2 linked regions of the Homo sapiens genome follow. The protein of the gene in region 1 purifies or fractionates together with the protein of each later gene. This does not show direct contact. Each region holds a gene or a part of one and is shown in the gene's direction. Other genes may lie near its edges.

Region 1 (5,280 bases):
GCGCCATTGCACTCCAGCCTGGGTGACAGAGCAAAACTCCATCTTGAGAAAAAAAAAAAAAGAAGTTATGGGAAACCATCATATAACAGTACTAGAAGAGACTATTTCTCCCCAGTGCTCTCAGATCTCACCACCAGTTTTTCCTGGCCCTGGTCCTGCTATGACACAAGAAATCTTTTGCTCAAGGATAAGTCCTATAAATCAAAACTCCCACACATGGACATAAAATGAGACAGTGGCCAAATCTATGGGGTTGATAAGTCACTGCCACTCAGACATGCCTGAAATAATTAGAGAAGCATTAATTTCATTGTAGATTCTGGTGAGAGAATTTAGAAAAAGGCAGTGCAGCCCGGCCCTTGCACATGCTAAAGGTAAATGTTTTCTTCCTTGGTAAGTCTGGGTCCAGGCGAACAGGAACCAGAGCTGACCATAACTTTGATGACCAGGAACCGTCCACATCCACAGAACACTGGTTGCCACCACTCGCCAAACAAGTCTCTCTAGTTCCCTCATTTGCTCTATTTTTATCACTTGTCTCTTTTGTCTTTTTCTCATATCTGAGATGTAAGTGACTGTCGGCACTCTTTCTAAGCACTCTCCAAGCTTCCCTGAGGCTTGGAGGCTCATTTTTCCAGCTCGTGCACAGTGAAATAAAAAATATTCAGAGACTCTTCCCTGATAAGGTTTTGTTGTAAGACTGGGAGGAGCAGAGCTGGTGTGCTTTTGGGTGGCTTTATTTGTAATTGGAAAAGATTGGCCTTCATGGATGGTTAATCTATACCCAGGAGAGGCGTTTTCCTACTTTCTAGTTCTATAACTCACAGTCCTAAAAGGAGCAGAAGTTGATGGCATCAGGAGACCTGTGTTAAAATCCTGACTCTAAAAAGTTTATGATTGAGTCAACATACATTTGCAAAATACCACCAAGAAACCAGACTTTGGTGCTCAAAAATGGAAGACATAAACTCTGCTTTCAAGAAGCCTGCGGTCTCAGAAGGGTGTGGCAAATGCAGTATAATGGAGTGAAAGAACGGAGTGGACTTCATCCCAGGCACAGGAGGTGGCTGCGCCTGGCTAGGGGCTCCCAGCTTCCACCATGAGGTGGGATGCCAAGGTGTCTGCCCCTCTGGAGGACCTCGGCATCCAGAAGAGGCAGTTTCCTCCTAGAGGGTCACCCAACTCATGCAGGAGAATTCAGAAAATGATTGTTGAAGGAGGTAGCCCTTGAACTATAGAAGAGGTAGGGGTGAGTGACTTTCCAGGCAGGGAGGACAGCACAGACTCGGGCAGTGTCACCTATGAATTCATGTGCTCAATTACACTGTACATGCGAATCAGCTCTGGATCATTCATCCCTATGAGACCCTGATTCTTTGTCTGCAAAATGAAGACAACAACCCTTGCCTGGATACATAAAGAGTTGTGAGGATTCAATAAAGAATATAAAAGAGCTACACCAATTGGCAAGTCCTATTATTATGAAAGAGAAGTGTGGTACAGGACCTGTCAAGATTCAACCCAAGATAACAGTGCTATGTGGAGAAAGAATCTAGCCCTGGCTCTGCCACTAACCTCCCCACCACCATAGGCCTCAGCTTTCCTCATCTGTCCAATTAGTGGCTTGGAACCAGAAAGGCCAGAAGCCCTTCCTGCGCTGATATTTTATTTGTAAGTCCCCTTTAAATCCAACTGCCAGTAACTAGCACGTGGCTCCCGCCCCCAGACTGCTTCTTTATTCATTCCTAACCTTTACCTTGGCAGATGAAATATAAGATTCATCAACCACATTTGACAGCCCATGGCAGGTTTCCTGTTTTCCATCGTCCCTCTGCAGGTCACAGACACACAGAGCCCAGCCGTGGCAGGCTCAGCCGGGGTCCGGGGCTGCTAACAACGGCTACATTCCTCCCCCAGGGCCAAGGGAAATCCTGAGCGCAGGCCAGGGTTGTTTGGTTTTGAGGTGTGCTGGGATGAAAGGCACCCTGGAAGTGGAAGGTTCGGTCATTCATTAATTAATTACATCTATAATTGAGGGTTTGTTCTTAAGAGCGAGTCCTTTGAAAGTACTTTCCTTCAAACAGTGACTGCCACAAAGGCATCAGATATTCACCACCTTCTCGGCTGCCTCAGCACAGCAAGCTTTATTCTGGGACCTGAGATCCTGTTCTGAGCTGGCTTTCCCTTCTCCAGGCTCGCTCACCCTCCCTTTAGAGGTGGGGCTTATTGGGGGTGGAAAAAGGTGTGTGTATCTCTGTTGTTTAATGTCTGGTTTTTTGTTGCTGTTGTTGTTGTTTTGTTTTGGTTTTGGTTTTTGGTTTTTTTTAAGGAAATCTATACTACATCGAATATGCTTTCTTTTGGGTGGACTTTAACCTAACCCATTCCAGGTAAATGAACAATGGAAAAACTTCACGGCAAGATTAGAAAGATACCTGAGCCCAATACCCGCCTGATGTCGTGGGCCACACCTCCGGGTTACCAGGGGAAGGGAGGAAGCAAACTGTCATATTGATGTGGCTCTAAACAACAACAGTGTGCGAAGGCCCAGGGGCACTTTGGGATTGACCAAGAGGAAACACAAGTTGCACAATGATACAATCTTGTTGGTACAATTGTCAGAGAAGGGAACTCCCACAGCAAAGGCCATAAAACCATCCAGGGCAGTCTGGGGCGGCTCAGTTCTGCGGTGCCAGGGAGTGGAGCAGAGCTCAGCCCCGTCCCAAACACAGATGGGACCATGAACTCCGGACACAGCTTCAGCCAGACCCCCTCGGCCTCCTTCCATGGCGCCGGAGGTGGCTGGGGCCGGCCCAGGAGCTTCCCCAGGGCTCCCACCGTCCATGGCGGTGCGGGGGGAGCCCGCATCTCCCTGTCCTTCACCACGCGGAGCTGCCCACCCCCTGGAGGGTCTTGGGGTTCTGGAAGAAGCAGCCCCCTACTAGGCGGAAATGGGAAGGCCACCATGCAGAATCTCAACGACCGCCTGGCCTCCTACCTGGAGAAGGTTCGCGCCCTGGAGGAGGCCAACATGAAGCTGGAAAGCCGCATCCTGAAATGGCACCAGCAGAGAGATCCTGGCAGTAAGAAAGATTATTCCCAGTATGAGGAAAACATCACACACCTGCAGGAGCAGGTAAGATGCTGGGTGACCCTGGAGATCCAGATGGGGCTGCTTTGCCAGGGGACCCTCGGGAGGAAAAATGAGTCCAGAAGACAATTTCCAGGAAAATGGCATCAGCGCTTGAAGTAATTGTGCACAAAGGTTTTGGGGGATGTTTTCTTATTATATCTTAAATTTGGAGTGGGAAACGTCTGTTTTGTTTAATTAGTCTACTGTCCATGGATAATGTAGAAAAAGAAGGCAGCAAAAATGATAGAAGTGCTACAGACTGTTTCAAAAATGAGACTACTGATTTCTCACAGACCAAAAACATCTTTAAAATGTGAGGCAACCAGCTGCTGTTTAATGTCACTTATGACCCAACGATGTCATAGAAATGATAAGGGCTGGTGTTCATGCTGCATGCTCAGTGCACCAGGCATAAGAGAGTGTTTACTTTCTCATTACCTCAGTTCTGCTCCACCTCAAACTTTTTTGAACAATGTGGTTATCCATCGACAAAAGGCTGTTACACTATTTTGAAGATTATGCCTAAAAGTTGTCACCACACCAGCATATAGGTCATCATGACATCCCTAGATATTTCCGTTTGTGGGTTGCTTGCAGTAAAGTTGCTCACAGTTCTGACAATGGCATATTGCTAGAACCAATAATAATAAAATGAGCATAATTTTTAGAATCTGAGAGTTGAGATGGCTATAAAGACCTTGTTCAAAAAAAACCGAACTCTTTAACCAAACCTCAAAAAAGCTAAGCAAATACCTTCTGGGATGTCTCATAACATTAGCTAGAAGTAGAAGGAATCCAATCATCTCATAGGTTATGTTTTAAAGCTATCTAACTCCCCTCTTATATAAAGCAGTCCCAGAAAATTCCCTGTAAGACCATGATTTAACCTCCCCTAGAAAGGGTATCACAAGTTTCCAATATTTATATATATTATTTCACAATGCTCAGTCATCCTTGCTTGAATGTAGGAAGGACCAGTCAAGATAATATAAATCTGTCCTTGTAATGAACCCTAATTATTGAATAATCAACCTAATAACTGACTGTAATTACCTTAACTATATAGTGCATGGTTGTCTTTATGAAAAAAAAAAAAAAACAAGGTGACTCAACAGTCCTCATCATGTTTTTTTGTTTAATAAAGTTGCTTTGGTTGTAGAAAGGAGGAATTGAAGATTTTTGCAAATGGAGAGCAAAGGGAGACCATGACTCCCAAAAGAAATACAAGGTTAGAACCAGTCAAATAATTTATGAGCTCGCGGAAGAGATTTAAAAAAAAGAAAGGGAGGAAAGAGAGGGAAATGTTTACTGAGCACTTATTATGTACCTAGGCATCCTGCTGGATATTTAATACACATGTCAACACTATCCAAGAGTTTTCTGCAATGATGGAAATGTTCCATATTATTTTATTTGATTCTGCAAGAACCCTGTAAGGAAATGGAAGCTTGGAAAAAAGTGAAATAGCCATCCAAAGCCATCAGCAAGAAGCAGAGGTGGGATTCTAACTCAGGTCTGTTTCCAGTAGCCTCATAAATTTCACTACAGTGTAGTGCTGCCTAGCCCACCTCATATAAAAATGACACTTAGTATGAATAAAGATAATGCATTATACTTGCATCATTAACCACACATCACATACTTCATACACATTGTCTCATTTAATCCTCACAACTGTGTGGAGCAGGTATTTGTATTCTCAACTTACAGATAAGGAGACTGAGACCTAATCATTGTCTAAATCCTTTGGAACAGAATTGAGAAAAGTGAGTAGGTGCAATGGGGGGTGTGGGGAGCAACCTGCCCACCCTTCAGATGACCTGGAATTCTGGGTTCTGAGATTGAATAGGAAACTTCTTTGGCTTTGAATTTCACTCTTTTCTGGATTTTTACCTCTAACATTGTGTTTTCTCTACACTTGAAGAAAGAAACTCTTTAAAGTTGAGGTTGTCTATCTACCCCAACCTCCCTCATTTGAAGATGAGAAAACAGAGGTGCAAGGAGGTCCCACAATTACCTGGGGCTTATCCTTCCTGGACCTTGGTGAAATGCTCTGAGTGGATACAGTTCTCCCGTACCCTCACTTTAGGTATATTAAATATCACTCAAAAGGTTGATAACAAGTTGAGCTTAAAAATTAATTCAAT
Region 2 (4,668 bases), on another chromosome or scaffold:
GTCTTAAGGAGTAGCTACAGAGGCACATGGAGGGCGTAAGGTCTGTGGAGCTTAGGGGCTTGGTTCCCTCATGGTAGGGGTAGGGGCGCTTTCCTGACCAAGTCTTTTCCCTTCCTGCCTCCCCCAAAGGCTCAGCTCCTGGAACTCCGGACAAACAACTACCAGCTTTCAGATGAACTACGCAAGAATGGTGTTGGTGAGCCAGGAGGGCCTTATTAGATGGGGGTGGCTTTGGGGAATGGTGTCCGAGGTTTTCCCTCAGAGGCCTGGCAGGAAGGCCTTTCAGTTTCTTGCCACTGGCTGAGGCTGAGTTTCCCTGCTTTCCCGACACCAGAACTCACCAGTCTTCGACAGAAGGTCGCCTACTTGGATAAGGAGTTCAGCAAAGCTCAGAAGGTACCTCCCTCCACCCACCCATCCACCTACCCATCCACCCTTGCTTCTACCTATCTGACTCATTCATCCCTCCAGTGAGCACCTACAGTGAACCAGACCTAATGTTGCATGCTGTTTTCACGTAGTCATTTAAAGGATTCTCAATGGAATTCTCTTTAGTTGCTAATTTTACCTAATCCTGCTTAATTTAGTGATTAATTTTAATTTACTTTTAATTCATTTCTAATTTCAGTTACTCATTCTCATTCACTGACTTTTAATTAAATATTCAAATCTATCAGTAAATCTACCTCGAATCTGCCTCCCATCCTCTACTCACACTCCTGCCTTGTGCTCCTACTTCCCATCTCTGTCCTGGTCCAGTTGGGAAAATGAGAGCAAACCCACCTCTCAGATCCTCTAAAGATGAGATAGGATATAACCTATTGTGGCCCCTCAAGACATTCGAGGTGCTCCTTTGTCACTGCTCTGTCCCCATATCTAGCCATACCTAGCACAATGTTAATACATAATATGTGCTCAATAAATATTTGTTGGATGAACGAATACAGTATGCAGAAAATCCGACAGTCAGGAAGCTGCACTTCTCTTTGGTAGGATGCTGATTCCCCTAAGCTGGCAATGCTCTTGGCTGCCCAGTAGGGGAGCGACAGTTTCCACACTGCGTGGGAGGGACCCACAGAGACATGTATGGACAGATGTAGCAATGAAGCCACAGTTTCTGAGTCTGGAGATCCAGCCCATAAATGGTTAAATACCAGGGCATCTCCCTACCTCCCCTGTCCCCCCACCAGCCTCAAGAGCTTCCAAGAAAGGATGATTTATGTGTGCTGGGGCCCCAGGGCAAGACTTGCATTCATTCACTCACTCACACACTCATTCCATCATTCCTTTGGGCTCCAAATTGTCACACATGTTCTGTGGTTGAAGATGCTCCCATCCTGCAACCCCTGTCATCCTTGTCCTCCCAAAACGCTTGGCACAATTGTCTCCATATCCTAGTAAGGCAGTCCATCTCTGTTCACTTTAGCTCTCTTCCCACCCACCCCCACTTTAGGCACTGAGCAAGAGCAAGAAAGCTCAGGTAAGGGGATCCCTTGTGGGTGAGTGTGACTGGGAGATGTCTTGGTGGGCTATTTCTGTATGCTGATATTTCCTTGTACTGGCCTTTCTTTCTTTGTGTGCCTTTACATCTGCTACTACCTCACTGCCATGTGTTGCTGTATCTGTCCTTGTTTCCCTGTATTTGTCCTAACTCTGTGTCTCTTTCCTTCTCTCTCTTTCCATTCTTTTCTCTGAGTCTCTTTCTGTCTCTGTCTGTTTTCCTGTTCCTGTCTCTCTGACTCATTTCTCTTCCCAATCTTCTCTTTGTCTCTCCCCCTCCTGTTCCTGTCTCGGTGATTTCTCTTTTTTCTGCTTTCTCTCTCTAACTCCTTGTTTCTTCCACCCCATTCCTCTCTCTTCCTAACTCATTTCTTTTCCTGACCCCTCCTCTTCTCCCTGTTCTGTTCTCTCCCTGTTGATTTCTGTTTGTTCTTCTCTCCGTCTTTTTCACTCTCTCCCTCCCAATCCCTCTCCCCTTTTCTATCTCTCCCCCTTTCCCCATCTCTACTTCCTCTCTCCCCAATCATTATCTTCCTGTCTTTTCCTCCGCTCTCTTCCTCCCTGTATTCCCTTCTCTCTACCTTCCCATGTCTTTATCTTCCTTTCCCTGTCTCTCATTTTATCCCTCCCCATGTCTCTTTCTCCTATATCACCTCATTCTCTGTACCCTATGTCCTCTCCCACCCATGTCATTTTCTCCCTCTCTCTGTTTCTTTGCCCTACCTCCCTATCCTTTTTGCCCTTGCTGGAGTCCTGGCCCTTGTCTGCCACTGCAGGAAGTCGAGGTATTGCTGAGTGAAAATGAGATGCTGCAGGCAAAGCTGCACAGCCAGGAGGAGGACTTCCGTTTGCAGAACAGCACACTAATGGCCGAGTTCAGCAAGGTGCTGGTGCCTGGGATAGTCAAAGGGGAAATGAGGGGTAGGGGTCATCTGGGCTGAAACCTAACAGCGGCAGAGAGTGATTGGACAGGGTCTGGCCCTGGAGCACTGTCCGTGGTGCTGAAACAGGTCCTGGATTGCTGCTGGGGGGCAGTAATTTGACAGATGGGGCCGCTCACTCTGCTGGGATTAGAAGGCTTTGAGCCCTGAGGTCACCTGGTTCCTGGCCAAGTCACTCCTTTTATTTGAGCTTCAAGTCTCCATGTGTATAATGTGGGGTTGATGCTGTGGTGCTCCAAGGTGTTGGGGGGTTTTAGGCAGAGTTCTTATGCTTAATATAGGATGGAAAAGTGTTCGAGCTTCTTCCCTTTTCTCTTTCTTCTCTTCATCTGACATGAGCCTGGGGTTCTACCTCTTCCAGATAATTCATCCTGGAGCTACTAATTCTATCTCCCCATTGATTTTAGTGTCCTGTCTGTTTCTAAATCTACTGGGCAGTTGGAGACATTGTCTTTTGTTCCCTCATCTATCTTCTGTATCCACAGTTGATAATTGTCTATGTTTTTAGTGTGTTTTAAGGAAAAAAGTCTCATGGCAGCAAATTTTTTTGAGATGGAGTTTCACTCTCATTGTCCAGGCTGGAGTGCAATGGCATGATCTCAGCTCACTGCAACCTCTGCCTCCTGGGTTCAAGCGATTCTCCTGCCTCAGCCTCCCAAGTAGCTGGAAGTACAGGCATATGCCACCATGCCTGGCTAACTTTGTATTTTTAGTAGAGATGAGAGAAAATGACATGGGTGGGAGAGGACATTTAGTAGAGAAAATGACCATGTTGGTCAGGCTGGTCCTGAACTCCCGACTTCAGGTGATCCACCCGTCTTGGCCTCCCAAAGTGTTGGGATTAAAGGCGTGAGCCACCGCGCCCGGCCCAAAAATGGTATTTCTAAGGCTCCATCTGAGAATATAGTGCCTATGACCTTAAAAAAACAAAACCGAAAATAACCTTTAAGCAGGTACAATACCAGGAGAGGCAGTTGAGCAAGTAGTAGGTACCAGCAGGGACTCTGGAACCAGAAGGCCTAGATTAAAATCTTGGCTCTACCTTTTACTAACTGTAACCTTGAGGAAGTTACTTAACTTGCCTGGTTCTTGGTTCCCAAATGTTTAAAATGGAAGTCATGATAATAACAGTACCTGCCTCTTCACAGGGCTTTTGTGAGGATTAAATGAATAAATGTACGTAAATCACTTAAAACAGAGCCTTGCACATAGTATCAGCTATGGAAGCATTAGTTATAATATTATCCTTCTATTAACTCATCTTCCCTCTAAAATATTTGACTTTTTAAAAGTTTTATGGCCGGGCGTGGTGGCTCAGGCCTGTAATCCCAGCACTTTGGGAGGCCAAGGCAGGCAGATCATGAGGTCAGGAGATGGAGACCATCCTGGCTAACGTGGTAAAACCCCGTCTCTACTAAAAATACAAAAAATTAGCCGGGTGTGGTGGCACGTGCCTGTAGTCCCAGCTACTCGGGAGGCTGAGGCAGGAGAATCGCTTGAACCCGGGAGGCGGAGGTTGTAGTGAGCCAAGATTGCACCACTGCACTCCAGCCTGGGCGACAGAGCAAGACTCTGTCTCAATTTAAAAAAAAAAAGTTTTATATCCACCCTGTGGCCCTGCTTTGCCTTAGCCTCTACCACTTATCATCTGCTGTTTCTACAGCCGCCTCCCTGGTCTCTTCACTTCTAGTTTCTTCTACTTAGTTCACACCACAGAGGCTGTTCTGACCTGCAGATCTTATGACATCACTCCTTTACTTAATACATTCCAGTGCCCCAGTCCTGCTCCTAGTTCAGAGCCCCTGGTATTCACATAACTGCTGGCTTCACTGACTGACTCCTCACTGCTTCCTGCCTCCAGCCTCCATGGTATCATGATTCTTGCAGAGTGAGGCAGGGGCAGACATTCTTCCATAAATCCAGCTTGTTTCCCTGCATCTGCCCTGGGCCAGCACTGGGCTAGTCGTAGAGACTTCCTACATAGTCCCCTTCCTCCTCCAACTCCTCCCAGGAACTGGAAGTGCTCTCAGAGAGAGCTACGTTAAACCTGCCACCACCCCTTATTCATCAAGACATTTCAGCTTAATTGTTCCTTCGACAAATAGTTACTGAGTACCCACCACATGCTCTATGTTCTGGAAATACAGTTGTAAGCAGCACAGAATGATCTCCACTCTTGGGTAGCTTACATTCTGGGGGTGGGATGAGGAGAAAGATGATAACAGTA

Evidence for each region. The genes of interacting proteins can lie anywhere in the genome.
Region 2: the proteins of KRT23 (region 1) and GRIPAP1 purify together in Homo sapiens (affinity purification with mass spectrometry; one large-scale study listed by BioGRID and IntAct). This does not show direct contact.

What each region holds. Positions count from the first base shown.
Region 1 is NC_000017.11:40,934,064-40,939,343, reverse strand, and holds the start of KRT23 (keratin, type I cytoskeletal 23), read left to right. Parts: upstream 1-1,697; 5' UTR 1,698-1,998; intron 1,999-2,073; exon of another isoform or gene 2,074-2,390; 5' UTR 2,391-2,740; coding exon 2,741-3,136; intron 3,137-5,280.
Region 2 is NC_000023.11:48,994,966-48,999,633, reverse strand, and holds part of GRIPAP1 (GRIP1-associated protein 1), read left to right. Parts: intron 1-129; coding exon 130-196; intron 197-334; coding exon 335-396; intron 397-1,453; coding exon 1,454-1,480; intron 1,481-2,276; coding exon 2,277-2,384; intron 2,385-4,668. UniProt on the Homo sapiens protein: Regulates the endosomal recycling back to the neuronal plasma membrane, possibly by connecting early and late recycling endosomal domains and promoting segregation of recycling endosomes from early endosomal membranes.